Regions from separate parts of the Homo sapiens genome. Here all the other regions are reported to be linked to region 2. Evidence: microRNA targets listed by miRTarBase, many of them from high-throughput screens and not tested one by one. Region 2 holds a microRNA gene; each other region holds the end of a gene's coding sequence.
Evidence for each region. Region 2 holds the annotated microRNA hsa-miR-924 (AGAGUCUUGUGAUGUCUUGC, at 4,232-4,251, opposite strand). A microRNA usually pairs through its seed, bases 2 to 8, with sites in the 3' UTR of a target mRNA and lowers its output. Matches are read on the target gene's strand: a 7mer-m8 pairs with bases 2 to 8, a 7mer-A1 pairs with bases 2 to 7 and ends in A, and an 8mer does both.

Region 1 (7,122 bases), not on the chromosome of region 2:
TCCACACAGGGGAGAAACCATACAAATGCAATGTGTGTGGAAAGGATTTTGCGTATAGCTCTGTTCTTCACACTCATCAGAGAGTTCACACTGGAGAAAAACCATATAAATGTGAAGTGTGTGGAAAGTGCTTCAGTTACAGTTCATATTTTCACTTACATCAAAGAGATCACATCAGAGAGAAACCATATAAATGTGATGAGTGTGGTAAAGGCTTCAGCCGGAATTCAGATCTTAATGTTCACCTCAGAGTCCACACAGGAGAGAGGCCCTATAAGTGTAAGGCATGTGGTAAGGGCTTCAGTCGTAATTCATACCTCCTTGCCCATCAGAGAGTGCATATAGATGAGACACAGTACACACACTGTGAGCGTGGAAAGGACCTTCTGACTCATCAAAGACTACATGAGCAGAGAGAAACATTATAAATGTAGTAAGTCAGGGTTCAATTAGTAAAACAGAAGCCACACTGTATTCCAGATGATAGAGGCTTACTCAGCCTGTGGGAGGGCTAGGGGAGCAAAAGACAGGGACACTGCCATCGATAATGTCAGCCTGCAGCACTGAAGTGTGCCAGGCAAGGACTGTGGATTTCAAGAACTTCTGTGAAGCTCCCATCAACTGCTGTATGCTACAATGGCAAAGAGGTTACTTTTGACAAATGGGTGGTTTGTGGTAGTGGTTGTAGTTAGTGGTCAAATTTCCATTAAAGGGTGTGTCCAGGAAGGAAATTCTAATTGGGATGATCATGGTAAGGTCTTCAGTTCAGCCAACGTCTTTAGATTTTTTTTTAGTCCCCAGTAGAAAAATACTCTCTGTATGAAGAACATTCAAAAGTGTGCTCAAAAATGAAACCCATGCTCTTACTATGAAAGAACGTTAGTACCCAGGTTTTCCATGAGATTCTCTACACAGGCAAGAAGCTCCATAGAAGTGGCATTTGAAGGGTGTGGCAGAGGCAGTGCTGTGTTTATCACACTGGTTCCATTTCCTTGCAAATAAGAAGTCTATTTCCCAGTAACCCTTGCAGTTAAGAGTGTGCCCATGTGATTGAGTTCTAGCCAATGGAGTGTGAGCAAAAGTGATATAAGCCACTTTCAGGTCTAGCCTTTACAAACATCCTCAGGCTTCTCTATCCCTGCCAAGGTGACCTTGGAGGCTGCTTATTCCAGACTGGGTTGATAGAAGGTCACTACTTCATCTGTGTTGGATTTCTTTTTAGAGTAAGAAATAAAAGTTCATTGTGTCTCACCACTGAGATTTTTGGTGGTTTATTTATTACTGCAGCATTGCCTAGGCTATCCTGACTAGCATGGAGGGATTTTATAGCAATATGTTTCATTGTCATTGGAGTCCACATACAGAAGTAACATAATTCAGAGTTCAAAACTTTTAAATCTTTAAGGCTTGATGTGGCAGTGCAACCATCTAAAATGGTATGGATGGGACTTCTTCAGTGATAACCTTCATTCATTGGTGAGTACACCAAAGAGAAATGTTCCAGATGATATAGCTGTGGTAAAACTTTACTGAAAAGTATAACCCACCGACGTAAGAAATCTCATATAATAGAGAAACTCTATAATGTGGGATGCTGAATAGGTTTGTCAGCTCACACCTTAAATGCGATTAAAAATTAACTAGAATAGGTGTTCTGTGGTTAGTCTTAATAAAATTAATTGAATAAAATCAACATTTACTAAAGTGACCAACAACATGTAAAAAACCAACAGTGTTCATTGCAGACTGATGCAGTCTTCTTCTCAGCAGACCTGTATAATAATGGGTTTTTAAAGGATGCTCTTTCTGTCAGTTTCCCCCCAAATTTGTCATTTAATTGGGGATAATAGATGAATTCGAGAGGAGATCTCTTTGCTTTTTTTTTTTTTTTTTTTTTTTGGAAACAGGGTCTTGCTGTGTCACCCAGGTGGCTGGAGTGCAGTGGCCTGATCATTGCTCGCTGAAGCCTTGAACTCCTGGCTTCAGTGATCCTCCTGCCTCAGCCTCCTGAGTAGCTGGGACTACAGACATACACCACCGTGTTCAGCTGATGTTTTCTTTAAAAATTGTACTTGTAGAGATGGGGTCTTACTTTGTTGCCCAGGTTAGTCTCAAACTTCTGGTTTCAAGCGATCCTCCTACCTCAGCTTCCCAAAGTGCAGGGATTACAGGTTTGGGCCACTGCACTCATCCCACAAGGTGTTTTTTTTTTCCTTCAAAAACAGTGTCCTTTTTTGTTTTAATTGACTTATAGGTTTCTTCATTTGGATCATGGTTTATTCCTAGTTTTTCTTGCATTACAGTTTCCTGCTAGTTATAGTTTGTAAACAGAACAGCCATTCAAGTGCAAATAAAACCATCCCTGAAGTGTCATTTTCTTACTGATCAGGTGGATAATAGTGAAATATTTTAAAAATTCTATGTCAGTAGAAATGAGGAAATGAGTGTTCTTACATAAGTTGGTGGGGGAAAGAAAAACAGGTACAAAGTTGCTGGAGAGGATCTTGTCTATATGTATCATATGTACAATGTGCATTGTCTTTGAGCCAATGATCCTGCTTCTCAGAATGTATTTTTAGGATGTAATTACATGAGTGGGGAAAATATGGTTTCAGAAAGAAATATGTTCTAAGAATTTTGCAATGAGAAGACTGTAAACAACCTGAAGGTTCATGTATAAGAGATTGAGTAAATTAGGGCATCCCATATAATGGAATAACATGGCTCCATCAACAATGATCTAGACCTATAAAAATGTCCACATGTTATTGTCCATGTCCACCACATACTCCAGTACTCCTACTTGCAAACATTAAGTTAGAGAAAAAATCCGGGATACACATTATCCTAGGAAGCTTTTGGGGTTTAGAATGGGTGCAACATTCCTTCATGACAGAATCAGCCCTCAGTGTTGGTGGAGGTGTCCCAGGCAATCCTCTAGTTTGGCCGGGAGCAGCGCTTGCATATCACATTAAGCTTTTTAAATATATGATGCTAACAGGAATGTCTCCCTACTTCACAAAATTGTTTGCTTTTCCTCTTGTAGCAAAGTAGCATGGAAAAAGCAGAAATTAGTCTAGCTCCCAATCAGTGGGAGCCAATCTCATTTACAAATGAAGATGCAGAGATCCTAAATAAATATGAGCATGTCAAATCCAATGATTTGATAAAAGCGTAACAGACTCGCTCATGTATAATTTATCCTAAATATGCTTATCAGCTTCTGCCTCATAACACACACAAGAACTGAGTAGCTCTAAATACATATTTATTTAGCTCATGATGTGTGAGCTGGCAAGTTCAACTGGGCTTAGCTGGGCAGTTCTGGTGTGGGACATGCTAGATTATCTTAACTGGGCTTTGTACATGCATCTGCAGTCAGCTGATGGTTCATCTGGGCCTGGCTGTTTTATGATGGTCATAGATGAGACAACGAAGTTCTCTCTGTCATCATGGTCTCTCACCCTCCAGAAGACCAATCGAGGGTTGGTCCCATAGTGCCAGGGTTTCAAGGGCAAAAGCTGTGATCTCTTAAGGCCTCATCAGGGAACAGGCTCAATGATACTTTCACCACATTTTAATGATTAAAGCAAGTCACAACACTGGCCCAGATTCATGGGGTGAGATTAAGACAAAATAAAAAATGTTGAGACATAATCATTGGAAGGAAAAGGAAGATACTATTTTTATGCTAGAGAATAATGTTATTTACTTATAAAATTCAAATCCACCTGTAAAATTTGACCAATTGAAGGCTGTTTTAAAATTATCGGGTCAACAAATTGGTTTCACACGAAATTGGCATGTGAAAATTCATAGCATTACTATGTAAGAGTCTTTTATAAAATGTAGCCAAAATGTTTCATTCACAATAACAATTGTGTGCAATGACCAGAATTGTCCAAAGGTAATTCTGGGAGTTCCCTTTGGGATGCCTAGGTGAGGAGCTATCTGGGGCCTCAGACTCCCACATTCTTCAGTGGGAAGGGCTTTACATGAACTCAACTTCCCAGCGGCTTTCTCTTCCTGATGGGAGGTGTTAGAACCTGGCTTTCTCATGCAACTTCTGTGAAGCTCTGACAACTAAAGCCAGATTGTCTGCTTTAGTTAAGTAGTCCAGATTACCTGCATAGTCAATTTGTTCCCTCACCAACATGGATGCCTTCACAATTGCTCTTTAAGAAGGATAAAAACATAGCGGTGAGGTGTGGTCTATTTCCTGCTTCACCCAGGCCCTGGTGCTTCTTCAAGTGGTATGAGAAATTGTGGTCCTGTGCCTTCTCTTCCAGACCCTTAGCTTACATGTTTTCCCTATAAAACTTAGTCCTAATCCCAGCACTTTGGGAGGCCAAGGTGGCTGAATCACAAGATCAGGAGTTTGAGACCAGCCTGGCCAACATAGTGAAACCCCGTCTCTACTAAAAATACACAAAATTAGCTGGGCATAGTGGCAGGCACCTGTAATCCCAGCTACTCAGGAGGCTGAGGCAGGAGAATCGCTTGAGCACAGGAGGTGGAGGTTGCAATGAGCCAAGATCGCACCACTGCACTCCAGCCCAGGCGACAGGGCAAGACTCTGTCTCAAAAAAAAAAAAAAAAAAAAAAAAGTCCCTTATGTGTGATGATAAAATTTGATGAAGAGCAACACTGGTGGACTTACATTACCAGAGATCAACATTTATTATAAATTTTCTATAATTAATACAGTGTGGTATTCGCTCAGGAGAGAAAAAATAGATCAATGGAAAAGAATTGGGAGCCCAAAAACAGATCCACATGTATACAGTGAGTTAGTTTATTAGCCTTGAAATATGTTGGAGAAATAATAGTCATTTTAATAACTGATGCTGGGTTATCAGTTATACTGATAACTACTACTTAACACTACTTAACACTAGCTCTTCATACAACTACAGGCAATAAATACAAATAGCATGCAGCTGGCAGACTGGGCCCAGTGGCTATGCCTCCACTAGACTGCCCATAGAAGCATAATAACAGCTACCGAAGATGTCTGATCTGTCTTGTCTTTTTTTTCAGGTATAATTTACATAAAGTGCAGACTTTAACTACATTTAAGTTTTAACAAATGTACATATCCTTGTAAATAATGCCCATTCAACATGTTAAACATTTTCTTTACCCCAAAATTTCCCTTGTGCCCCTTTCCCTTCATTTCTTTCCAAAAAAGGATATAATCACTGTTTTGCTTTCTATCACCATATGTTGGTTTTGCCTATTCTTGAACTTTATATAAATGAAATCATACTGTAATATACTCTTGCGTTTGGCTTTTTTTTCATTCAACATGGTTTTCTAAATTTGTAATTTATAATAAATAGAGTATTGCATATTTTATTATTGTTTATAAATTGTGTTCTGAAAACATTCTATATTAGTAAAATTTATAGTAAACTTATATAATGTACGTATGTTTCTTTCTGGAGAGCCATTTATTAAACATTTATTAGCATACCACTCACAAAGGAGATGTAACCCCAGAATTGGCCTTTTTCTTCTGTAGTCAACTGGCTTTGAAGTAGAATGTAACATTAGTTATTATTCCTCATTCCCCACTCATTCTCTGTATCTGCTTCTCTTATTTTTTTTCTTTTATTTTTCTGCAGACACTATGGTTACTTAAGTATCTACTTCTCTTTTTCTGCATGTCTTTGAGTAGAGACACTGGTCACCTTTGTTCCCCACTGTCTTTTCAAAGGTGCGTACGCGTTAGGGAACAAAAATATAGTGTCTTCCTCTGGAGCAGCAAATTTGTTTATGGACCACTCCAGTGAAGACAGTGTCTCCCTCTGGGGTGAAGGGCAGTGGTTTTGTTCCCACTGCCTATCATAGAAGATTCAGGTTTCCTAAGCTTAGAGTTCTATTCCTACAACGCAGCCCGCTAGGTATGCAAGCAGCACCTGGCCTTTCACGTCACTCTATGGGATTAGAGTGGTAAAAACCATTGCAAAGGATGACACTCTGGCTACTGCTGTGGTTGTGACTAATAAAGTCCTTTGTCTCAGAGCCAGGAGTCTCTTGTCTTGTGCCAGCATCTGTGAGACTGTCAGGCTAACTTGTGAGCTTGTAAATTGGTTCCTTTCAGATCCTTGGTTTTGATGGAAATAAATGTCTCTTAATCTTAGATGCAAACTAGAGCTACCTGGAATGCTTTCGGCTTTTTACAATTTTTTTCTGGTGAAATATACATAACATGAAATTTACCATCTTAACCATTTTTAAGTATATAGCTCAGTAGTGTTAAGTACATTTACATTGTTGTAAAACCAATCTCCAAAACTCATTTTATCTTGCAAAACTAAAACTCTATCCCATTCAACTCTATCCCATTCAACAGCAACCCTCAATTTTCCCCTCCTCCCAGCCACTGGCAGCCACTATACTTTGTGTCTCTATGCATTTGACTTCTCTGAGTCACGTAAATGGAATCATACACTATTTGTCCTTTTTTTTTTCTTTTTCTTTTTCTTTTTCTTTTTTTTTTTTTTTTGAGACAGAGTCTCTCTCTGTCACCCAGGCTGGAGTGCAGTGGTGAGATCTCGGCTCACTGCAAGCTCTGCCTCCAGGGTTTACGCCATCCTCCTGCTTCAGCCTCCCGAGTAGCTGGGACTACAGGCGCATGCCGCCACGCCCGGCTAATTTTTTGTATTTTTAGTAGAGACAGGGTTTCACCATGTTAGCCAGGATGGTCTCGATCTCCTGACCTTGTGATCCGCCCGCCTCGACCCCCCAGAGTGCCGGGATTACAGGCGTGAGCCACCATGACCAGCCCAGTATTTGTCTTTTTGTGACTGGCTTATTTAACTTACCATAATGTCCTTAAGGTTTATTTGTGTTGTCGAATGTGTCAGAATTTTCTTCCTTTGTACACTTGGGTTTCTTCCACTTTTTGGCTATTGTGAATAATGCTGTTATGAACATAGGAGTACAAATATCTCTTCAAGACCTTGCTTTCAATTCTTTTGGACACATACCCAGAAGTGGAATTGCTGGATCATATGGTAATTGTATTTTCAATTTTTTCAGGATCTGCCATTCTGTTTTCTATAGAAGCTGCCACCATTTAACATAATGTTTTTAAGTTCATTTATATTATTATGC
Region 2 (7,122 bases):
GTCTGGAACTCCTGACTTTGTGACCCATGCACCTCAGCTTCCCAAAGTGCTGGGATTACAGGGGTGAGCCACTGCACCTGGCCGAAAATGGATTTTTATTTTCTACCACATGGTCAGGTTGCAAATTGTCTAAACTGTTATGATCTGCTTCCCTTTTAAATATAAGTTCCAGTTTCAGATAATCTCTTTGCTCACGCATAGGATCATACACTGTTAGAAGCAGCCAGGCCCATCTTGAATGCTCTGCTGCTTAGAAATTCCTTCCATCAAATACCCTAAATCATCATGTTCAAGTTCAAATTTCATAGATCCCTACAGCAGGCGCACACTGTCACCAGTCTCTTTGCTAAAGCATAGCAGAGTTGAGAGGTGACAACATGCTGGCGGCTCCCGCTCACTCTCGACGCCTCCTCGGCCTTGGCGCCCACTCTGGTCATGCTTGAGGAGCCCTTCAGCCCGCCGCTGCACTGTGGAGCCCCTGTCTGGGCTGGCCAAGGCTGGAGCGGCTCCCTCTGCTTGGGGGGAGGTGTGGAGGGAGAGGCGTGGGTGGGAACTGGGGCAACGCGCAGCGCTCATGGGCCAGCACAAGTTCCAGGTGGGTGTGGGCTCGGCGGGACCGCAATCAGAGCGTCCGGTCTGAGCTGCCGGCCCAGGGTAGTGAGGGGCTTAGCACCAAGGCCAGCAGCTGCTGAGGGGGCTCCGGGTGCCCCATCACTGCTGGCCTGCCCGTGCCATGCTTGAATTCTTGCCAGGCCTCAGCTGCTTCCCTGCAGGGCAGGGCTCAGGACCTGCAGCCCGCCATGCCCAAGCCTCCCCAACCCTCCCCCCACCCCGTGGGCTCCTGCGTGGCCCAAGCCTCCCCAACAAGCACCGCCTCCTGCTCTGTGGCGCCGGGTCCCATCGACCGCCCAAGGGCTGAGGAGTGCAGGCATGCAGCGCGGTACTGGCAGGCAGCTCCGCCTGTGGCCCTGGTGCAGGATCCGCTAGGTGAAGCCAGCTGGGCTCTTGAGTCTAGCTGGGACTTGGAGAACCTTTATGCATAGCTGGAGGATTGTATACACACCAGTCAGCACCCTGAGTCTAGCTTAAGGTTTGTAAATGTACCAATCAGTGCTCTGTGTCTAGCTAATCTAGTGGGGACTTGGAGAACTTTTGTTTCTAGCTCAGGGATTGTAAACGCACCAAACTGCACCCTGTCAAAACGGACCAATCAGCTCTCTGTAAAATGGACCAATCAGCAGGACGTGGGTGGGGCCACATAAGGGAATAAAAGCAGGCTGCCCCAGCCAGCAGTGGCAACCCTCTCAGGGTCCTCTTCCGCACTGTGGAAGCTTTGTTCTTTCGCTCTTTGCAATAAATCTTGCTGCTGCTCGCTTTTTGGGTCCGCACGTTCTTTATGAGCTGTAACACTCAGCACGAAGGTCTGCAGCTTCACTCCTGAGGCCAGCAAGACCACGAACCCACCGGGAGGAATAAACAACTCCAGATGGGAGTATTGAACAACTACAGACGCGCTGCCTTAAGAGCTGTAACATTCACGGGAAGGTCTGCAGCTTCACTCCTGAAGCCAGCGAGACCACCAACCCACCAGAAGGAAGAAACTCCGAATACGTGTGAACATCAGAAGGAACAAACTTTGGACACACCATCTTTAAGAACTGTGACACTCACCGCGAGGGTCCGCAGCTTCATTCTTGAAGTCAGTGAGACAAGGAACCCACCAATTTGGGACACAGAGTGACCTTTACTCCAGTTCCTAGTAAATTTCTCATCTCATCTGAGACCTCCTCAGCCTGGACTTTATTTTCGTATCACTATCAGCATTTTGGTCACAACCATTCAACACAACTCTAGGAAGTTCCAAACTTTCTTTCGTCTTCCTGTTTTCTTTTGAACCCCACAAACTGTTCCAACCTCTGCCCATTACCCAGTTCTAAAGCTCCTTCCATGTTTTCAGGTATCTTATTAGCAATGCCTCACTTCCTGGTACCAATTTTCTGTGTTAGTTCGTTCTTACACTGCTATAAAGAACTACCTGAGAATGGGTAATTTATAAAGAAAAGGGTTTTAATTGACTCACAGTTCTGCAGGCTGTACAGGAAGCATGGCTAAGGAGGCCTCAGGAAACTTACAATTATGGCAGAAGGTGAAGGAGAAGCAGACAGATCTTACATGGCCAAACAAGGAGGAAGAGGGCAAAGAAGTTGTTGCCACACACTTCTTTAAACAACTGGATATCATGAGAACTCGCTTAGTATCACGAGAACAGCAAGAGGAAAGTCCTCTCCCATGATCCAGTCATCTCTCCCCAGGCTCCTCCTCCAACAGTGGAGGTTACAATTTGGCATGAGATTTGTGTGGGTGCACTAATCTAAACTATATCATATAGCCACTGTGACCACAAAGTCAATCATAGTATAAGCATATTTAAGTCACACATTCATTATAGATCTTGTCTTCACAGGCCCTCCCTGGGTCACAACTTCAAGATTTTAGATAAAGAGGTCAAGCTGGCTTGGGTGTGCATGCAATTCATAAGGGTCAGAAGAAAAGACAGTTGGCTCTGCCCTTTCCTGAACTATAAAACCAGCCATAGTCCTCTGAAGGAGGTGTGTGCTTGAGATTTTGATCCATTGTGCTGTAATTAATGACTTAGGGGGAAAGGCATTAAGATGTAGGTTTGAAACTGCAAATTACTAGAACAACTGCCTGTTTCATATTCTGCTATTTACAAACTGTGGTGGGGGAAAACAGTAACAACCTATAAGGAATCTTGAAAAAAGAAACTGCGTGACAGAGGAGATCATTGTTCTCTGTATTGCAACACACATTCAGAGGCCCTTGAAGTGAAATAACTTAGATATTTTTTTCTTTTTTGTTTGTTTTCTGTTTTTCCCTTTGGGCCGTCTACAAGTGAACCAGTCTAAATTGGTTTAATCAATCAATAGGAATTTGCAATTCTATGCTAAGTGCAACAACAGATAGTAAAAGACTATAAAATACAAAGAGGTATTCTGTGAAATTGGGGCATACAAGAGACAGGCTTCCCCTGCTCCTTTGATCAGTCTCTCAGATATCTCCTAGGGCTTGAATACCAGACATGTCACCACTTCCAAATACTTCAATATTGGCTACCAGAGGAGAAAGATTCACTTCTGGTCTGTCATTCTAATATGGTCTTTAGACCCATGGGGCTAAGTGATAAAGGTTCACAAGTCTTCTGTAATATTGAAAACAAACAAACAAACAAGAAAACACTAAATTAAAGCCTTTTTCAGGTAACTAAGAAAAACCTGCTCAGACTTAGATCAATGTCAGGCTTCTTTGCTTTGTGTAAAGTAACAACTCATTGGAATAACTCTGGTTGAAGTGATATAGCTTGTGCTGATCAAAAAATTTGGAGAGTATATACCTATGATTAGTAAAAATGTCAAAAAGCCTATTGCTAAATAATTTAAAATGTGGAGTCCTCAGTGGAAAAATTATCTGTGTGCCTATTATTGGGGTTCAGAAAACAATACCCAAAAATATGACAATGTGCTCTTCCAAACAAAGCACAGGATTTAGGCTTTTCTCTGAAATTTCCTTATCTACTTTAAGACTGGACCTGCCAAAGGAACCCAACTGCCCTCCATTCCCTCTCTGAAATCTCATTACCTATCACAGAAAAGAAGACAGGAATGCAACCATATCTGGAGGGACATTTTTATAAGATAATGTCTCTCAGCCTTATTTGAATTCCAAAGAGAATCATTTCCAAGTTAATTTTTGTCTGTTGAGTCCATTCATTCCCCCTAAAAATCATTTACTACCCCTCAAAATTGCTACAACCTTGATTGCCCCTTCTCCTGAGAAGGTTATATAAATACCTGGACCTCATTGAGTTATTGGGCCATCATTCTCCTGTGATTCCCTCGTACTCCTGCACATTAAATAAATGTTGTATGCCTTTTTGTATTATTAATCTGCCTATTTTCAGTTTATTTTCAGCAAACCTTTAGAGGGCAGAGGGGAAGCTTTCTTTGCTCCTACAGTATATACCAATGAGATTTACAGAGGCAAAATGAGAACTTTATTTTCTAAAAGCAATCTGCAGACTGGGGAGATGCAGCCTTCAGTGCAAACCAAAATACACACCGAAGAGGAGTCAAGGAGTAGAAAATTATTATAAAGGCAAAAACCATAGGATGGAAGGGAATCAGTTGTAGACTCTAGGTTGGATGGCCCTTAAGCAAGACATCACAAGACTCTATTGACTGGCTTAGGTGGTCTGTGGGTGGTCAGTTGAGGAATTTTCACCAGCAATCTATCTTAGGATAAATAACAGAAACTGGTTTAGTTTGATTGCAGAAAGAGGTCCTGTGACACTTTTAAAACATTTTCCCAAGAATACAGAGTATGTGATCCCTTCCTCACCCAGCCTTGGCTGCCTGGTTCTGTTTTAACCTTGAGCACCTCAGTTAGCCAAGAGAAGTCCATTTTGTCCATCAGCCAAGAGCATATTTTAACAGTGTGTGGAATAGAAACCCAAACCCTAAGTGAATCCTTCTTTATATGAGTCTCTTTGTACCATTTTCTCTACTCTCCAGCTCAGACATGAATTTAAATTTTCCTTTTTGCCCCAATTTTTATCTATAGATTCCTCAAAGTAGTCTGAGGAATGTGAGGTATGTAACATTTTTCATGCCCAGAGAACCATGAGCATGAGACTTCACTCACCCTCTCATCCCACACATCCATGCTTGGAGGGTAATTGTTTAAAGGCATTTGGTTTTTTTCTTTCCTTCCGTGTAGTTTCCAGACTAGCTGATAAACTTCCTAAAATATTACCCCAAGTTTTACAATGTGACTCTCACCTATTTTCTTCATGTTCCTGGGATTTATGATACAAAGAATAATAAATAGTCAACAGCTTATTATTTCAATAAACAATATACCTTATTTAAAAAATTTTTAGGAACTGCCTCTAACTTCTACTTCTTCATTTTTTCTTTGAAAATCCACTTGGAACTGCTGTAAATGCTAACAGCAGCATATATTCAGGACTACTTGAATCTATGACTCTTGGACAGCAGTCCTCAACCTTGGCACAAATAAACTGTTCAATTATATTAATTTTGCTTCATTTTCAACCTTTAGGTGCACAGAATGTTAGAATAGGTAGCTAGGCAGACATGAGCATGGCAGGAGAGGGCCTTCTACCCCGTGAAGGGCAACCATAGCTGGTGCCAGGAAATGGCAGTCTCCCAAAAGACAGAAAACACGCGAAACTGGTGATCAGTAGCTTCCTAAGATCTCAGGAGTTTGGTGAGCAGGCTTAAGTATGCACAGTAAAAGGCAAAATGGTAGAGTTTAATTGGTATATGACCTTCCTCTAGGAACACTCCACTGGTAAGGGAAAAATGCCTCAAATGAGCATGTGCACAATTGCAGTAAACACTGTGCATGCAGCCCCTCTCAAGTGCTGACAGACCACTGCACGTATGTACAGATAGCCAGCCCAAAAAAAAATCAAGGGAGATGAAATGCAAACCCCAGAACCACGCCAATGTATAAAACCCCAAGTCAAGGGTCGGATGGAGAGCACGTGGATCTCTCAAGTCACCCACTTGGCCCTTTTCCATGTTTACTTTACTTCTTTTCATTCCTACTGTAAAACTTTTTAATAAGCTTTCACTCCTGTATTCCTAGGCTTACTATGACTGATCAATAAAGGTCACTGAGATTCAGATCATAAGATTTAGATGGGTAAATATGGCAAATATTAGGGTATTTTCATTCTTTCCTCTGGGAGTCAATGTTATCTCTCACAAATATGAATGTTACATTAATACTAACTGACAATATTAAGACTGTTAAATGAGCTTTCCTCTATCCCAGCATCTTGTTTTGAAGCATGGTGTTCTAGGTGTTAGGAAGTAGAATTTTACATACTCTTTTCTTTAAAGGTCAATATGACCTATTATTTGATGGAGAATTTCATGTTAACACAAACAGATTGTTGTGAGGAAAAGTTAAAAATGCACACAGTTTTAAAATACAACGCAAGATTCAAAGAAACTAAATGTTTGTAAACTATTGCTTATATCCAAGTACTTGAATCCCTGATAGTACGTTTCCTTTTTTCTGACTTTAACAAAATAATAGCATTTTCTGAGCCCTTACTATGTGCCAGTCACATACTTAATCCCTTCATACATCCATTATTTTATTTAATTCTCACAACAATTCTAGGGTGTAGGCATTATCACTACCATTTTAGATGTATGAAAACTGTTCATAAAATGTTAAGTAACTTAGCTAAAGTCATCAGTAATGTATAGTATTCAGATTCAAAGTCACGTTTATTTGAATCCCAAGATCACTTTTCTTGGCAGAATTAAATAATTAATTTAAGAAATTGAGAATTACTGATTACCAATCACAGTAAGAATTAGAGGTTTATATGCCTTGAGATCTCAACTTAGATCTTCCAGAAATCAATTTTAACATCTGGACAGCTAGTTAAAGATACTGTGCCAGAATAAAACCTAATTTCCAAGTAACAAACATTTCCTTTTAAGTTTGATTAATGATAATTATTATGCCAGGATACACTTAACTATGTATTAAATGAAATGATTAGTTTAAATCATGTAAGCCTGAGGATGAAGAACAAGACTTGTATTGTGTTAACTCCAATGAAAATAGGACAAAGGTGACTTTATGCTTGATTTAACTAACCTGTTTGCATATTGGCTTGCAGTTTCATACAGGTTACATAAGATTTAAGTGCTAATCATGTTCTGAGGTTGAGGAATGTTGTTGCTGTTATAAATGAATGTAGATTCCCATCTCTTCCCTCAACATGCTCTTTCCCTTACCCTCCACATCATCTAGTCCCATTGCTTTAAAAAGCATCTATATATTGTGATTCTTCAACTCATATATCCTAATTTTCTCTCTTTTCAGAACACCAAATTTAAACATTTTACTGCATCCTTGCCCTCTCCATATATAAATCTGAAGTGTATCCACGCTTTGTGTAGCCAAAACAAGACTACGGATAACACCTCTTCCTACCCCAACCTAATCAGCTTCATTTCCACTCTCAGTTTCTATCTGAATACAAATTATTCTAAG
Region 3 (7,122 bases), not on the chromosome of region 2:
AAAAAAAAAAAAGGAAAGAATAATTAGGAATAGTGCGTAGAATACATTGGAAAGAAAAATCTGAAAGAAGAGATCAGGTTAGTAGCTTTTGTCTAAATCTCAGTGTGAGATAATTCCCCAGATTTTGGGCGGTGGCATTGGAAATGGAGAGGAACCTTTTGACCTTACTCCATTAAGAAAGAATTGGTAAATTTATTGACAAAGTAGTTATTTAATATAACATTTATTTCTGATGACCAAAGTTCACTGTATGTTTTATGTCTTTATATTTTCCCAAAATATTAAACTAATTATGATAAAATATACTAATTATGGTATTAGTAATTCCATAGTGTATGTTTTGTGAAAATAGAGGCAAGCTATGAATTTTCAAAATCATTCTTATTAAAATATGCTTAACAAATTGGTGCCATAGTACTTTAAACTTGCTAGTTAACTGTACTCTTTCCTCCCCTTTCAGGTGGATGCCCGGAGCATACCAGTGTTAGCAAAATGGCAAAATTCATATAGCATTAAAGTTGTACTTCAAGAGCTAAGACGTCTAATGATGTCCAAAGAAAATATGAAGCTTCCACAGCCACCAGAAGGACAAACATACAACAATTAATTTTAGTGGATCTCAAACTTGTCTTAAATCAACAACCTTCTACTCATGTTAATGTCTTGATTAAATATCACAATGCAAAATACACATTAAGTAAAAGAATTCCAGCTGGTAAACATGACCTGGACATTTGTAAGAATATATTTAATATATGTACACCCATTATGTTTTCAGGTAACAGGAGGAAAAATGCAGCACAATTTTTTTTCTCTTGAAAGGCACTGTCATTTAAACATAAACCTGGAGTACTCGAAATAGAATTCAGGTTTACAAGATGAAAGCGTGTGGAGAAGTGTCAGATGGCAGTGGAAGCATGTGTGTTTCTAAAAAGTAAAAATCTCAAGAAAACAGAAATGGCATGCTTTACCCATCTTACTTAGTGAAAGAGAGCTGCAGTTGAAATTGTTTAAAAAGTAGCAGGTACAATGAATATTGTCACAGATGTGTTAATTTTTGAAGCAATGTGGGTGCTGACTACTAGTAGTATCAAAAATATGTTCAGGATTGTTTTGATACCTGTATTTATAATAAAAAATGTTGGGGGGAGTTGATGAATTCCTGTTAAAAGCTGTTCTTGTGTGTTACATGTAACAGACATGGTAAATATTTGTTTACAGTCTTTGTTTAACAAACCATGCATTTAAGTTTAAGTGAAGTCAACAAAAAGGAAATAGGTGTATGGATATGTGATTTTGAGATTAAAGTTAGTCTTAAAATGTAAATAAAATGTGAAACGTGTCCTCAGAGACTGTGCCATTTCTATTATGTTGATGTATATGTACAGTACCTTGCCAGGGAAGCAAAAATTGGAATTATTGTAGCTTTTCATGTATACACACTTTTATTTACCCTATTTTGTGTACTTCTTGTGAATTATAATTTGCAGACTATTTCAGAAAAGAAATTATCTAGTTTAATTTCTTCTTTGGACAAGGAGTCCTAGGTATTATATTTTGAGTTTGATTTCACCAGAAATAATAATATTAAAAAGATCTTTGCATTCTGGCAGTTCTTTTAGGATTATAGGTTGCAAATTATCCAAATATATATCCCATTTTTTAAAGCATAATATCTTTTTTAGTTGTTTTTCTGTGAAGCTTTTGGTTAATAAATAGGGTCAACTAATTGGAGACTTTTCTCTTCCAATTAGGGCTTTTAATACTAACAAGGATAACTTTATTCATTCCTCGTATTCTCTACTCTAACAAATATGAACTCTGAAGTTGAAAAGTCATTTATGTTCCGCTTTCACCAAAGTGACGTGAGGCTTTAGGTCACTGTTTCACTTCAAAGTACTGGATCCAAAGCTTTGTTGAAAATGCTGTTTGATGAATTCACTGAAGAATATAGAAAGGTGGTCAGGTAAAGTCTACTTTTATTTTGTCAAGCTTAATAATTTGTGTCATACTTTACCCCAGTATATATAGGCAAACCAAAACCTTATCAAATATTAAATTAGTTGTTTAAACTTTGCTTATAAAGTATTGGCCATGTGGTGGCTCATGCCGCTAATCCCAGCACTTTGGGAGGCTGAGACGGGCAGATCACTTGAGGTCAGGAGCTTGAGACCAGCCTGGCCAACATGATGAAACCCTGTCTCTACTAAAAATACAAAAAATTAGCCAGGTGTGGTGGTGGGTACTTGTAGTCCCAGCTACTCGGGAGGCTGGGCAGGAGAACTACTTGAAACTGGCAGACAGAGGTTGCAGTGCCGAGAGCGCACCACTGCTCCAGCCTGGGCAACAGAGCAAGACTCCATCTCAAAAAAAAAAAAAAAAAGAAAAATATTAATAATTGACCTTGGCTGTATATTAAAATAGTTACTTTTATAGTAGAGCACATTTCTCAAACATGCCCTGAAAGGCTTTTATCAAGCTCATATAAAGTTAAAGCTTTGAGCTACCTTTTCTTGGCCAATAAAGTCACTGACAGTTTATGTAAACATTAATTTCAACATGGCTGTTGCATTTTAATTATCAAAAATGTTTAAAATGCTTTAAGATGACACATAGAGAACATACACATACATACAAATTAGTGCATTTGTAATTTGTTAAATTTGAAATGAACTATTACCTTGAAATATAGTCTTTAAAAATTTTTAATGGTTAAAGATTAAATTGAATGAAACTGTAGTCTAATGGTAACTGATGATCTGAATCCGTCTCTCTGATAACCTCCTTTCCATTTTGAAAATGTGTCTTATTATACATGGAAGCTAGTAACTACGTGAATGCTGTTGGCAGGATGAGGGTCTGGGTACCTCAGTCTCTTGTCCTGTTTCCTTCCCCCAAATCCACCATTGTGAAGTTGCCAACCCCCTGCCGCCTTCCCCTGCCAAGTACATGTTGTCAGAGTCAGCCCTATAATGTTCATTTCCCCTCTTGTTTGTGGGATTATGGATCTCTGCAGAAATCTGCATGCCAATTAACCCATTTCTAAAGCAGAATCCATTTTGCATGTCACAATCAAGATGTACTTGGCAATCTAAGACACACTGGGAGACTGTAAGAGGAATTAATATAGAAAAGCTCTTAATTATAATAACATTTGGAAGAAATTTTTCCTTTGTTTTGTAAAGTGGCTAAGGTTGTAGGAGTGTGTGGTATTTATTACCTTTTAAATGAACTGTAAATTTGCCTTAGAAATTTGTTTAAAAGGCTAGCAAGTGAGACCCTTGAGGATGATCATATACTAATAAAGATTACCAAAAGAAACTTCTTGTCCTGTTAGGTCAGTGTTATGATTTAATGGTTTTAATTACTTAACCAATTTTAAGAATTGACAATTTTTAAAAATATTTTTTTCTACCATTCTAAAGTAATGTCTTTTGTTGTGGGTTTATGTGTAACTACAGGATTTTGGAACATAAACATTTTGAAGGATAGTCAATGGTATTTAGTCTTGGATATAAAAATAGAGAAAATTTATAGCTTTATGTTATTAAAATAATTTATCACACAGAGTGATTTGAGGTTTTCGCAGAGTAGATTTGTTTGACTCATGGTTTATTAGTCTGGATTACTTAAGAACAATATGTTGATTTTAATGTTAATTCCCACTAAATATATAATATTGATAAATACATGTGAAATTAATATTGTTTGGAAAATGTAGAGGACACAGCTGGGAATTATGAATGCTTTTTTCTTAATAGGTTTGGTGTGTGTGGCTTTGAATGGTTCTGCTGATGCATCATGGAAAGACAGCAGGGAACTGTAGCCTGCCATCAAAACTGTATCAACTCTTTTAATGAGCATGTGACTGTATTAGGTACATTTTGAAGAATATAAGTACTGATGATAAAGTCTAGTATGCATAATAGGATTTTGGAGGCATTTCAGGAATTTTCCTTTTATAGTATGCTTTTTAGGCATCTGTATGTGTAATATCATAGTATCATTTATTGCTGGGATGGATCGAAAAGCACTGCTTTTACTTTTCTGATAAGTATCAAAATGATTTTCCAGTACCAACTTGACTGGCTTTTAATTATTGTCACACACACACAAAATTCAACTCCTCAAGGTTTGGGAAAATTGTGTATTTTTTTGTATACAAGATAAAAGTGTCATAAAAAGGAATGGATGAATTGTTGATAGGAACATTAGCAGTTAATTTTTACCTGATACTGAGTTTACTGTAAAATAGGAAATGCATAGGAAGGAATACCTCCTAAATAATATGCCTTATAGAATGATGAAATCTTACCATAGTTCATACTGAAAATGTTGTTTATTTAAAAGTATTGTGGAGTGTTGAAAATAAAGATACACAATAAGTATTTTCTGAAGAGAAAATTAATGAAGGTATTTAATGATATAGGAAATAAGTGACAAGTTAAAGTCCATTTTGTTTCAATAAAGGAGTTGTGCAAACTCAAGGAGTGAGTTACATGATTGAAAAAAACCATTGGATATGAGGAGGTTGCTATGGTGTTTATATCCTTAATAGGATCTTTTCATCTAAAAAATTCCTAAGAATCTGCTCCATCTCATGTTTAAAATTAAATTTTTTTTTTTTTTTTTTTTTTTTTTTTAGAGACAGGGTCTTGCACTATCACCCAGGCTGGAGTGCATTGGTGCGATCACGATTTACTTTACCCTTGGCTATCCTGGGCTCCAGTGATCGTCCCGCCTCAGCTTCCTGAGTAGCTGGGACTACCGGTGCACGCCACCATGTCTGTTTTTGCTGTTGTTGTTGTTGTTTTGTTTTTTGTTTTTGGTAGAGACTGGGTCTCTGTTGTATAGGCTGGTCTGAAACTCTTGGCCTCAAGTGATCTTCCTGCCTTAGCCTTCCAAATGCTGGGATAACAGGCATGAGCCACCACCCCTGGCTGGCATCTCATATTTCTGTGTAGTCTATAAGACCATCTGAAAAGTTTTTGCTTCAGGTTAATTTGTGAAGTAAATGATAAAGGCTGATAGATGTTGTTTTCTTATAGAGATTCCAGGGATTATCCTTTCTCCAGTGTTTAACTGACCAAATACCATGTTAAGTGTTGTGCAGTGATCCATTTGCTGCCAAATAGATAGACTCAATGTGTGAATTCTTCTATCTTGTCATTGTCAATAGTGAGCAGCTACTTTATCCAGAAATTTTGGCAGTTAAAAGATTATACCAAAGCAGAGTTGTTATTCTTAGTTGGCACTAAGAAACCAATAGTCAAAAGAAACCTGTGGTCAATAGAAAAGCAAATTGTTGATCTTATCCATAGTGAATACTTTGCATTGCTTGTTCAGTACAGTAGTTGAGTAATGAAAGAAAAATATTGTTCAAGGATTACAAGGAGGCTTTTTTTTTTTTTTTTTTTAAACAAGCAGTCCTCCTGCCTCAGCCTCCCGAGCAGCTAAACCACAGGCACACACCACCACACTCGGCTAATTTTTAAAAATTTTTTTGTAGAGACGGTCTCGCTATGTTGTCCAGGCAGGTGTCAAACTCCTGGCCTCAAGCAATCCTCCTGCCTTGGCCCCCCAAAGTGCTGGGATTACAGGCATGAGTCACCTTGCCCAGCTCAGTTTTTTTTTTCCTTTTAATAATAGATTACAGGGTAATACTGAAAAATCACATCATGAAATGAGATTTTAACAGGACATCCTCATATTAAAATGTAGTAAAATTAGTTTTAATACTGAATGTCCTGTTTTTTATTTAAAGACTTTCATCCATTTATAATTAATAAACATGATACTTGATACTTGCTAATGCTTTATTACATTTGATAGCCCTTGTAGTTTATCAGCCTTTAACTTGAAGAACAGATTTTTTCCACAGTTGATAATTGATAAATATATTGTTTCATTCTTTATCACGCCACATTAGCCACTTAAGTAATGGTGGTCAAATGTTCCGATTACATCCATTATTATAAATTACCTTTTTGTTGCTATAATGTAAAAAAATCTGGATAATTGCAATGATTATTCAGACAAATTTAAAGTGGGTATTGGGTACGTTTTCAGTTATCCTAATACTCAAGTGAAAATAATTGAGTTCACAAGAAGAGTAAATTAATTGCATCGGTTTTTAAATTTTAGTAACATATGGATCCCTTTGAGAAGGAAAGTTCTTGTGGACTTAGTATTGTCTTGAATTATTTTTGTTAAACTATTGTTTAGTGCATACATTGAACTTAGGCTCTTAGATCTTTTTTTTTCTTCTTCTTTAGACCTGTAACAAAACTGCAAGATCTTTTAAAATTATAAAGTGGGCCCGGCAGAGTGGCTCACGCCTGTAACCCCAGCACTTTGGAAGGCTGAGGCAGCCAGATCACCTGAGGTCAGGAGTTCGAAACCAGTCTGGCCAACATGGTGAAATCCCGTCTCTACTAAAAATACAAAAATTAGCCGGGCATGGAGGTGCGTGCCTGTGGTCCCAGCTACTTGGGAGGCTGAGGCATGAGAATCGCTTGAACTTGGGAGGCGGAGGTTGCAGTGAGCTGAGATCGTGCCACTGCATTCCAGCCTGGGTGACAGAGCAAGACTCCGCCTCAAAAAAAACAAAAAAAGCTTCATTGCTAAAAACTAGGTAATTTTTAATGAAATGTGAACTTTATTAAGTTGTGTTTATCAAACATGTTGGCATGCTTGTTATTAAACCCTCCCCATGTTAAGTCCTTATAAAAGGCTGCTTACTTGGTACTTGTATGTAGATGATAATATTGAGTTCATAGGTAAATATATGTACATTATTGTCAACTCCTGGTTACAGAGATGATGATCAAGTCTGCCGGTCCCTCATCTGGCACCTCCTATCTGGTAGAGTGTAACTACCCATTAGCATAATGTTGTAAGCGGAACTGGATAGTAATATGGATAAGTGAAGCCATTGGCATGATATTCTAAACCGAACTGGATAGTAATATTGTGAAATGAAGCCATTAGCATAATGTTCTAAGCTTAACTGGACAGTAATATGGATAAATGAAGCAATTATCACAATGTTCTAAGCTGTACTGGACAGTAATATGGATAAATGAAGCCATTAGCATGATGTTCTAAGCCGAACTGGATAGT
Region 4 (7,119 bases), not on the chromosome of region 2:
GTGACCAGGCCAGCCCAGTGACCTTTCTCCTGCTGCACTTGGAGGGAGGGGACATACACACAGTCTCCCATCTCTCCTCCCCTCCCCCTGGGGTGGCCCACCGCATGGGTACAGGGGGTTCCAGGAATCCAAATCCAGCATGGCTTGGAGGAGCTCTGTTGGTGAGAGGTCGCCCTGCCTCACTGGCACCCTGGGGGCACAGCTGGAAGAGAGGCCTGGCCCATGCTCCTCTCAGGGCAGGCACATGTACGGGGCATACAAGGCACAGCGCCTGTTGGAACAGGTGGCTGTGTTCCTGCTCTGGCCCCCGTGGGGCTGGGCCTCCGCCCCTGCACCAGTCACATGCACTGGACGAGGGCCGAAACTCCTGTCTGCTATCGAGCCCTGGTGCTATGTGGCCCCGGAGCCACAGCACAATCATCTCAGTGGCGAAGCACACCACTTGATTCTATTTTTTTTTAACACATTAAATCTGTTTTTAAAGATACTCTTCAGAGGGGCCGTGAGAACAGGGGCCGGGTGGGCTGGTCTCGGGCCGCCCTGCGGTTTCTCTGGAGGTCAGAGGCCCCAGGTACTGGAGCATCACTGTGGAGTGGGAGGGGTGGAGCCCTGTATTAGGTTCTGGGTGCAGCAGGGAGGTGTAGAGTTCCGTTTCCTTGGATTTTTAGTTTTCCCTAAGAAAACTGAACAGATCTCTTATTCCGTGGGATTGGCAGCTGCCTGGCTTTGGGCCCTGGTGACTTGGCCAACGGCAGGAGAGTTTCCCCTGCTTCCTCATCAGCCACAGACCATTCTGTCCAGTCCCAGGGCCTGGAGCCACCTGACTTACCTGGAAGCAGGCCCTGGCATTAGCCCCCAGGGCAATACGCAGTGCCACCCTCTGTGGGCTCTCCTCCCCACCCTCAGACTTTTCTGCCTCTCCTGGGACTGCCAAGGATGTGGCTGACAAGCTGCTCCTGGGAGGCCTACTTTGAAAGGAGGAAAGGGCCCCAGGGCCTGTCAAACCCTGGTTCTGTTCTGCTCTGGCCAGGTCTAGACCTACAGTCCTTCTGGTTGGACTGGGGCCAGGGATGCCCATGCCTCCTCAGGTAGGGTGGGAACTGCCTTTGCAGAGATGCTGCCCGAGCTGGTGTGAGGGGCAGGGAGCTGGCCTGCTTGCCTCCAGGTGTTGACCCCTCGTCCCCATCTGCCCCCAGTGTCCTCCTAGGAGAGGGAACCTTGAAAACCCAGAGTTGTGGAGTGCAGGGGTAGGCTGGAGGCCTGCACGGGGAAGGGAAGGGCTGTGCACCAGCTTGGCAGTGGGGCAGCTGGAGGGTGTCCCCCAAAAGTGACCTTTATACAGGTCCAGGAACAAACAGTTCCTTGGAACTGCCCGCAAGTGAAGAAATATATACATATATATGTATATATCTATATCTCAAAATCTGAGAGCTCAGGGAGGCCGTGGAAATTTGGGGAAGAAGAAACAGACTCCCTGAGCAGAGCTCAGGGCAGCAGCTCCAGGCATGCCTGCTGAGCCCATCAGGCCACCGCCACCTGCAGGAAGAGCCTCTGGCCTGAACTGCTGGGGATGGGCTGCAGAAAGCCTGAGACATTTGGGCCAGCACCTTCCCAGGGGCACAGGCCCCCAAGGCGGGGACACCACCTCTGCTCTGCCAGGCCTGCCTCCAGGGCTCTGAGGAGAAGCTGACTTCACGGCCGCGGTGCCAGTGAGGGCTGCATAGCCAGGCCTTGTCTGTAGTCTGGGCGGCCCGTGGCGCTGCCCTTCAGCCCAACTACTCATTGCCGCTGCGTCTTTGGCGAGGCTTTCATTTCCAACCTTTCTTCCCATCTCAGCCCTTTTGTTGGCCCGGGTCCCAGGAGGCTGGTGTCGGTGAGGGCAGGCCCGCTCCTCTCATCGGGGTGGCTGTGGCCTGTCCCCCAGTCCCTCAATGGCCACTTTCTATAAACAAGGCAGCACTAATTTTTGCTATAAGATAAAAGAGGCCAGGCACGTTGGCTCACACCTGTCATCCCAGCACTTTGGGAGGCTGAGGCGGGTGGATCACCTGAGATTGGGAGTTCGAGACCAGCCTGGCCAACATGGTGAAAACCCCGTCTCTACTAAAAATACAAAAATTAGCTGGGCGTGGTGGCAGGTGCCTGTAACCCTAGCTACTCAGGAGGCTGAGGCACGAGAAATGCTTGAAGCCAGAAGGCAGAGATTGCAGTGAGCCAAGATCACAACACCGCGCTCCAGTCTGCGCGACAGAGCGAGACTCTGTCTCAAAAAAAAAAAAAAAAAAGTGCAGGTGCACGCTGGTGGGGACATTAGGAGCCTGTCAAGAGTGGGTCTGCCTGCTGGCACTTACTAGACGGGAAATACCCCCTAAAGAGGGCTTAAAAAGCATCTTCTCCCTAGCACGGGGCATGCTGGCACAGGGTGCTGTGTGACAGAGGCTTGGCCGCTGGGCCCCGCTGCTGAGAAGGCTGCTCTGCCCATGCCTGGCCCTGTGGGCAGTGCCAGCCATGGATCCCTGAGACCCTGGGCTGGAACCTGGGGCCCCGTCCCAGCCCTACCTGCAGCTCACTAACCCTCTCTGGGTTCTGCTCAGTGTCTGAAGTGATGGAAAGACCCCAGGGTTGGTGGCTGTAGCGGCCCCCAGGGGTGGCAGAACCCTTTGGGAGGCCAAGTGTTCTTTCCCAAAGCTGCGCGGGTGCCATCGCCTGCCAGGCCCTGGCTGTGGTGACAGACGTGGGCTGGGGTGAGGCTGCATCTGCTTCCTCTAACAGCCGTGGCTGCCTGCGGGCTCTGGCCTCCGCTCTGGCAGATTCTGCACATTCCCTGCAGGCGCAGGGGTGGGTGGGGGTGCCTGTGGCCTCGGAGGTACAGCCAGCTGTCCTCAGCTCAGATGGCCCCCAAGAGCCCCCAGCTCCTGTTCACTGCTCTTCCAGTTAGTGACCCCCGTGTCAGCATCATTGTCAGAGTTCCTGGGCTTGTGGGGGCTGGAGAAGGGAAGGCGCTGAGGAGGGAAAGATGAGTGCAGGTTTTGTTGAAACCACCCGACCCGCGTTTTCAGGGGGACGAGGCCACTGCCTTGGCCCAAGGACCTGCAGGCTTGGGGGACCCCCTCGATGTCCACTGGGCTGCGGATGAAACATCACACTGTGGTAGGAAAGGAAGGGGAGCACCCCCAGACGGGGGGGTCCTGCAGAGACCCCAACCCCTTACCTACCTAGTTGAGACACCCATGGGGAGCAGCCCCAACAGCATGTCGGAGTCCCTAGGCTTGTGGGGTCATGCTCTGTTGAGGGCCCTTCCTCTAACTGGCGAGCTTGTTTACAGCTGAGCTCGCCTGGTCAGATGGGCCCAGTGGCTTTATCTAATAAAGGCTGGACATGTCCACTTCATGAGCATCCCTGTTTTGAAGTCTTATTTTTAAACTCTTGATCCAACGCTTGGATCAGGAATACCCCCTAGATTAACAGTTGGGGCATAGGGCATAAAAGTGGAACATTGATCAAAGATACCGTAATCATATCCATCGTTTTCTGTCTTGAAGAACAGTTTTCACCTGGAAGTAGAAGGCACAGGGGAGGCCTGGCTCACCACAACGCTCCCTGCCGTGCCGAGAACTGAGCCCGTGTCTTTGTCACAGGCCCTCACCAGCTGGGCCAGGAGTGGCTGGCTTGGGATCTCCACCTCCCGAGCTGAGCTCACCTAGTGCCCAGGGCTTGTCAGAGGTCCCAGGGGGAGACAGGTGTTGGTGCAAAGTCAATGATTTCTCCTTGCAGATGGGCTTGGTGTGAATGCAGGTGGCCGTCAGAAGGGCTGTCCACCTTCCTTCAGGGGGCCGCCTGCACCAGACCCCAGGCTCCCAGGCCTGCCCAGGCTTGGCATACAGTCCCCTGGGGTGACAGCGTGCAGGGGAAACTGCAATTCCATGCCCTACAAAGCCCCCAGGTGATGTAGAGGCCTGTAGCAGGCATGGGGAGACCTCTGCTGTCCACAGTGCCAGCACCCCCTTCGGCTGACACCTGTGCTTGACCAAGGTTCCAGGCCTCAACTTATGGGGCAGGCATTGGACCTTCTTTTTTTTTTTTTCCAAGACAGAGTCTTGCTGTCACCCAGGCTGGAGTGCAGTGGCATGATCTTGGCTCTCTGCAATCTCCGCCTCCTGGATTCAAGCAATTCTCCTGCCTCAGCCTCCCAAGTAGCTGGGATTACAGGCACGCACCACCACATCCAGCTAATTTTGTATTTTTAGTAGAGATGGGGTTTCTCCATGTTGGTCAGGTTGGTCTCAAACTCCTGACTTTGTGATCTGCCCGCCTCGGCCTCCCAAAGTGCTGGAATTACAGATGTGAGCCACTGGGCCCAGCCCAGAACTTGGTTTTATCCACCTCTGGTGAAACATGAGCTCACTTGGTGCTCTCTGGCCTCTTTATTCCCATCTCCTTAGGCTGACCCTGACAAGTGCCAGGGCCAGGCTTGGACCAAGCAGTCAACTGAGTCAGCCTGCCCTGGGAACCAGGCAGGGGAGGGAGCTTACGGACGGGCTAGGCTCAGGAGAGTAAGAGAGAGCAGATGAAGGGCAGAAGTCCGTGGCCGCAGAGGCAGCTGAGCATGAGGGATGGAGCGTGCTGCTGTCCTGCAGGTGCCGTTAGCCCTGTTTTGCACTGGTGGATTGATCTGCTCAGGCGCACAGGGAGATGGCACAGCAGGACCCGCCGCCCAGCCTCGCTGAGGGCATGCTCCCGCCTCACCTCCAGAGGCTGTTGGGCGGAAGCCGAGAGCTGCAGCAGTTGGGGCCAGCGTGGGACTGGAGGCCCAGGTGAATCTTGTGGGGCAGGGGACGGAGCTGAGGCTGTCCGGCCCGGGCCCTCCCCACCCAAAGGCCCTAGAACCCTAGCCTTCAATCCTGGGGGTTTGCTTCTCCCCTGAGTCCTGGCTTTCCTGACCTGCCGTCCGTTAGGGACAGGTGGAGGGGCCAAGTCTTGCCATCAGAGGCCAGTGTGGTGGTGCCAGAGCTACGGGGTATTCCAGGACCCCTGACCTAGGCACGGGGCAGGAGGGCCCAGAGCCACCTGGCCACTTGTCAGGAGCTTAGGATTGGGAGGAAAGAGGGAGCCTGTATCCAGACTAAAGCCAGGGGTCTGCATGTGTCCTGGCTGGCCAGGGCCACCCTCCCAGACCTCAAGCCACCCCACCTACCACTGCCCACCTGGTGCCACCCCAGCACTGCCGCAGACCTGGCCCAGCAGCTCCTGCTCCTTAGCAGGGGATGAGCACGCCCACCACAGCCACCCTCTTCTCCAGGCTGCAGGGCAGGCTCCAGCTCCCCATGGGGGCCCCATCAGGCCAGGGCCCCTGGCTTTACTGCAGGGGAGAGGGTCTCTTGTGCAGACCCCATATGGCTCGTGCCCCCTAGAGCTGAGATGAGGCAGCCGGCCTGGCTGTAGCTGCACGGAGCCACCTGGAAAGCCAAAGGCAAGCTCCAGCTCCAGACCAGGCATTGGGCCAGCCGTGCCTGTTACCGTAAGTTCTGTTCATGGCCTCAACCAACTGCCCAACCATGCGGGCAAATGACCAAGACGCCATCTCTTGGGCCCCTCAGAACCAATGTTGCAGCAAGGTGGGCTCACTGCAGCAAGGGGCAGAGCCACCACCACGGTGCCTTCTGCTCACTGGGGAGGGAGGAGTGTCCCCACTGGTCGGGGCTCCCCCGCCTGCTGGAACCTCCCAAGTCCTGCCCCCTGCATTTCCCTGTGCAAGGGGAGAAGGAGCAGTAGGAGACCCTCATGCAGGAGGGAGGGAGCCGCAGTCCTCAGGGGAAGGGACACAGGGAGAGGCAGGGGCACAGAGGCAGGAAAGGATGGCCAGAGCCCAGCCTACTTTCTGCTGAGCTCCTTGGCCCGGCAGGTGGCAGCCTCCACGGCGCTCATGGTGGCTGCTCGCAGCCCGCCCTGCTCCAGGGCGTGGAGTCCATAGATGGTGGTGCCACCCGGGGTGCACACGTCTGAGCGCAGCTGGGCTGGGTGTTGGCCCTCGTGCAGCAGCATCTTGGCCGTCCCCTGAGGAGAGCGTTAGGGCCTGGTGACGGGGGGAGGTGGTGCGGTCCCCACTGTGCGGCCTGCCCTCGTTGCATCCCCCAACCTTGGCCCCAGCTTCTCGAGCCTGCTGTTTCCCTGCGCACTGGAAGAGGTACAGGCCTGGGCCTTCCCGATGTTCCCCAGGGGCCACCCTCACTCACCAGCAGGGTCTGGGCAGCGATGCGGTGGGCCAGGCTGCTGGGCATGCCCATCTTGACGGCTCCTTCAGCCAGGGCCTCGGAGAATGCACACACCTGTAGCCGCGGCATGGTGGTTGGGGGGGATAGGTGTCAAAGCCTGGGGGCTCAGGACCTTCAGGAACAATGCCCAGAGCAGTAGCCGTGGGTGGCCAGAACCAAGGCCTGAGCCCAACGGTCTGCAAAGGGGCTGGCCTCAAAGATCCCCAAGGCAGTGAAGTCCCGGGGACAAGCAGAGCTCCCAGTGGGCCTGGGGAGCAACCACGCAGGCCTCAAGGTTGGACTCTGAGGGCAGAGGCTGTCAGAGGGACTGGGGTGGGCCCCCTCTTTGCCGAGGGTGGGGCCGGGGATGGACGAGGCAATACTCACGAAGGCCACGCCACTGCCACTGAGGCCAGTGTGGATGTCGACGTAGGCTTCAGGCACCTCCTCACACCGCCCACAGGCCTCCAGCAGATGCTGCAGGAGCTTGGTCTCGCTGCTCCCCACGTGGCGGCCCCGCGCCATCACTATGGCCCCTTCCTGGACCACACAGGGCAGGTTGGGCAAGACCCGCAGCACCCGTGTGTTTGGGGGCAGCAGCTGGCCAGAGAGAGGTCAGAATCAGGGAGTCTGTAGGACTGGGCCCTGCTGGGCAGGCCCCAGCAGGGGCCTCAGGAAAGGTCCACGTCAGCTCGCGGTGGGCTCCAGCGTCTGCCTCCCAGGTACAGCACCAGGAGGGAACCCTAAATCCAGCCACTTGATCCAGGTGGGCCACACGGCCACCTCTCAGGCTCTCTGGGGGGCTGCCTGCCGCCCAAGCCTGGCCAGCAGAGCCTATACTGGGACCAAGGCCTTAGCCCAAGGGACA

Region 1: the mRNA of ZNF285 is a reported target of hsa-miR-924. Seed matches in the 3' UTR shown: 7mer-m8 at 4,571-4,577.
Region 3: the mRNA of UBE2V2 is a reported target of hsa-miR-924. Seed matches in the 3' UTR shown: 7mer-m8 at 2,354-2,360.
Region 4: the mRNA of PYCR3 is a reported target of hsa-miR-924. Seed matches in the 3' UTR shown: 7mer-m8 at 4,093-4,099.

What each region holds. Positions count from the first base shown.
Region 1 is chr19:44,379,778-44,386,899 of GRCh38, reverse strand. It overlaps ZNF285 (zinc finger protein 285), which reads left to right. Exons shown (of 4, transcript NM_152354.6): 4 at 1-4,602. The coding sequence ends at 428. Among named protein-coding and RNA genes, the nearest start is that of ZNF285, 18 kb to the left of the region's middle.
Region 2 is chr18:39,617,922-39,625,043 of GRCh38, forward strand. It overlaps MIR924 (microRNA 924), which reads right to left and starts at 4,254; the gene lies at 4,202-4,254. The region is part of intron 2 of MIR924HG (MIR924 host gene); the gene reads right to left.
Region 3 is chr8:48,060,222-48,067,343 of GRCh38, forward strand. UBE2V2 (ubiquitin conjugating enzyme E2 V2) reads left to right here. Exons shown (of 4, transcript NM_003350.3): 4 at 461-4,487. The coding sequence ends at 607. Among named protein-coding and RNA genes, the nearest start is that of UBE2V2, 55 kb to the left of the region's middle.
Region 4 is chr8:143,599,829-143,606,947 of GRCh38, forward strand. It overlaps PYCR3 (pyrroline-5-carboxylate reductase 3), which reads right to left. Exons shown (of 6, transcript NM_023078.6): 4 at 6,639-6,851; 5 at 6,234-6,326; 6 at 3,382-6,054. The coding sequence ends at 5,872. It overlaps TIGD5 (tigger transposable element derived 5), which reads left to right. Exons shown (of 1, transcript NM_032862.5): 1 at 1-3,396. The coding sequence ends at 4. Among named protein-coding and RNA genes, the nearest start is that of TIGD5, 5.6 kb to the left of the region's middle.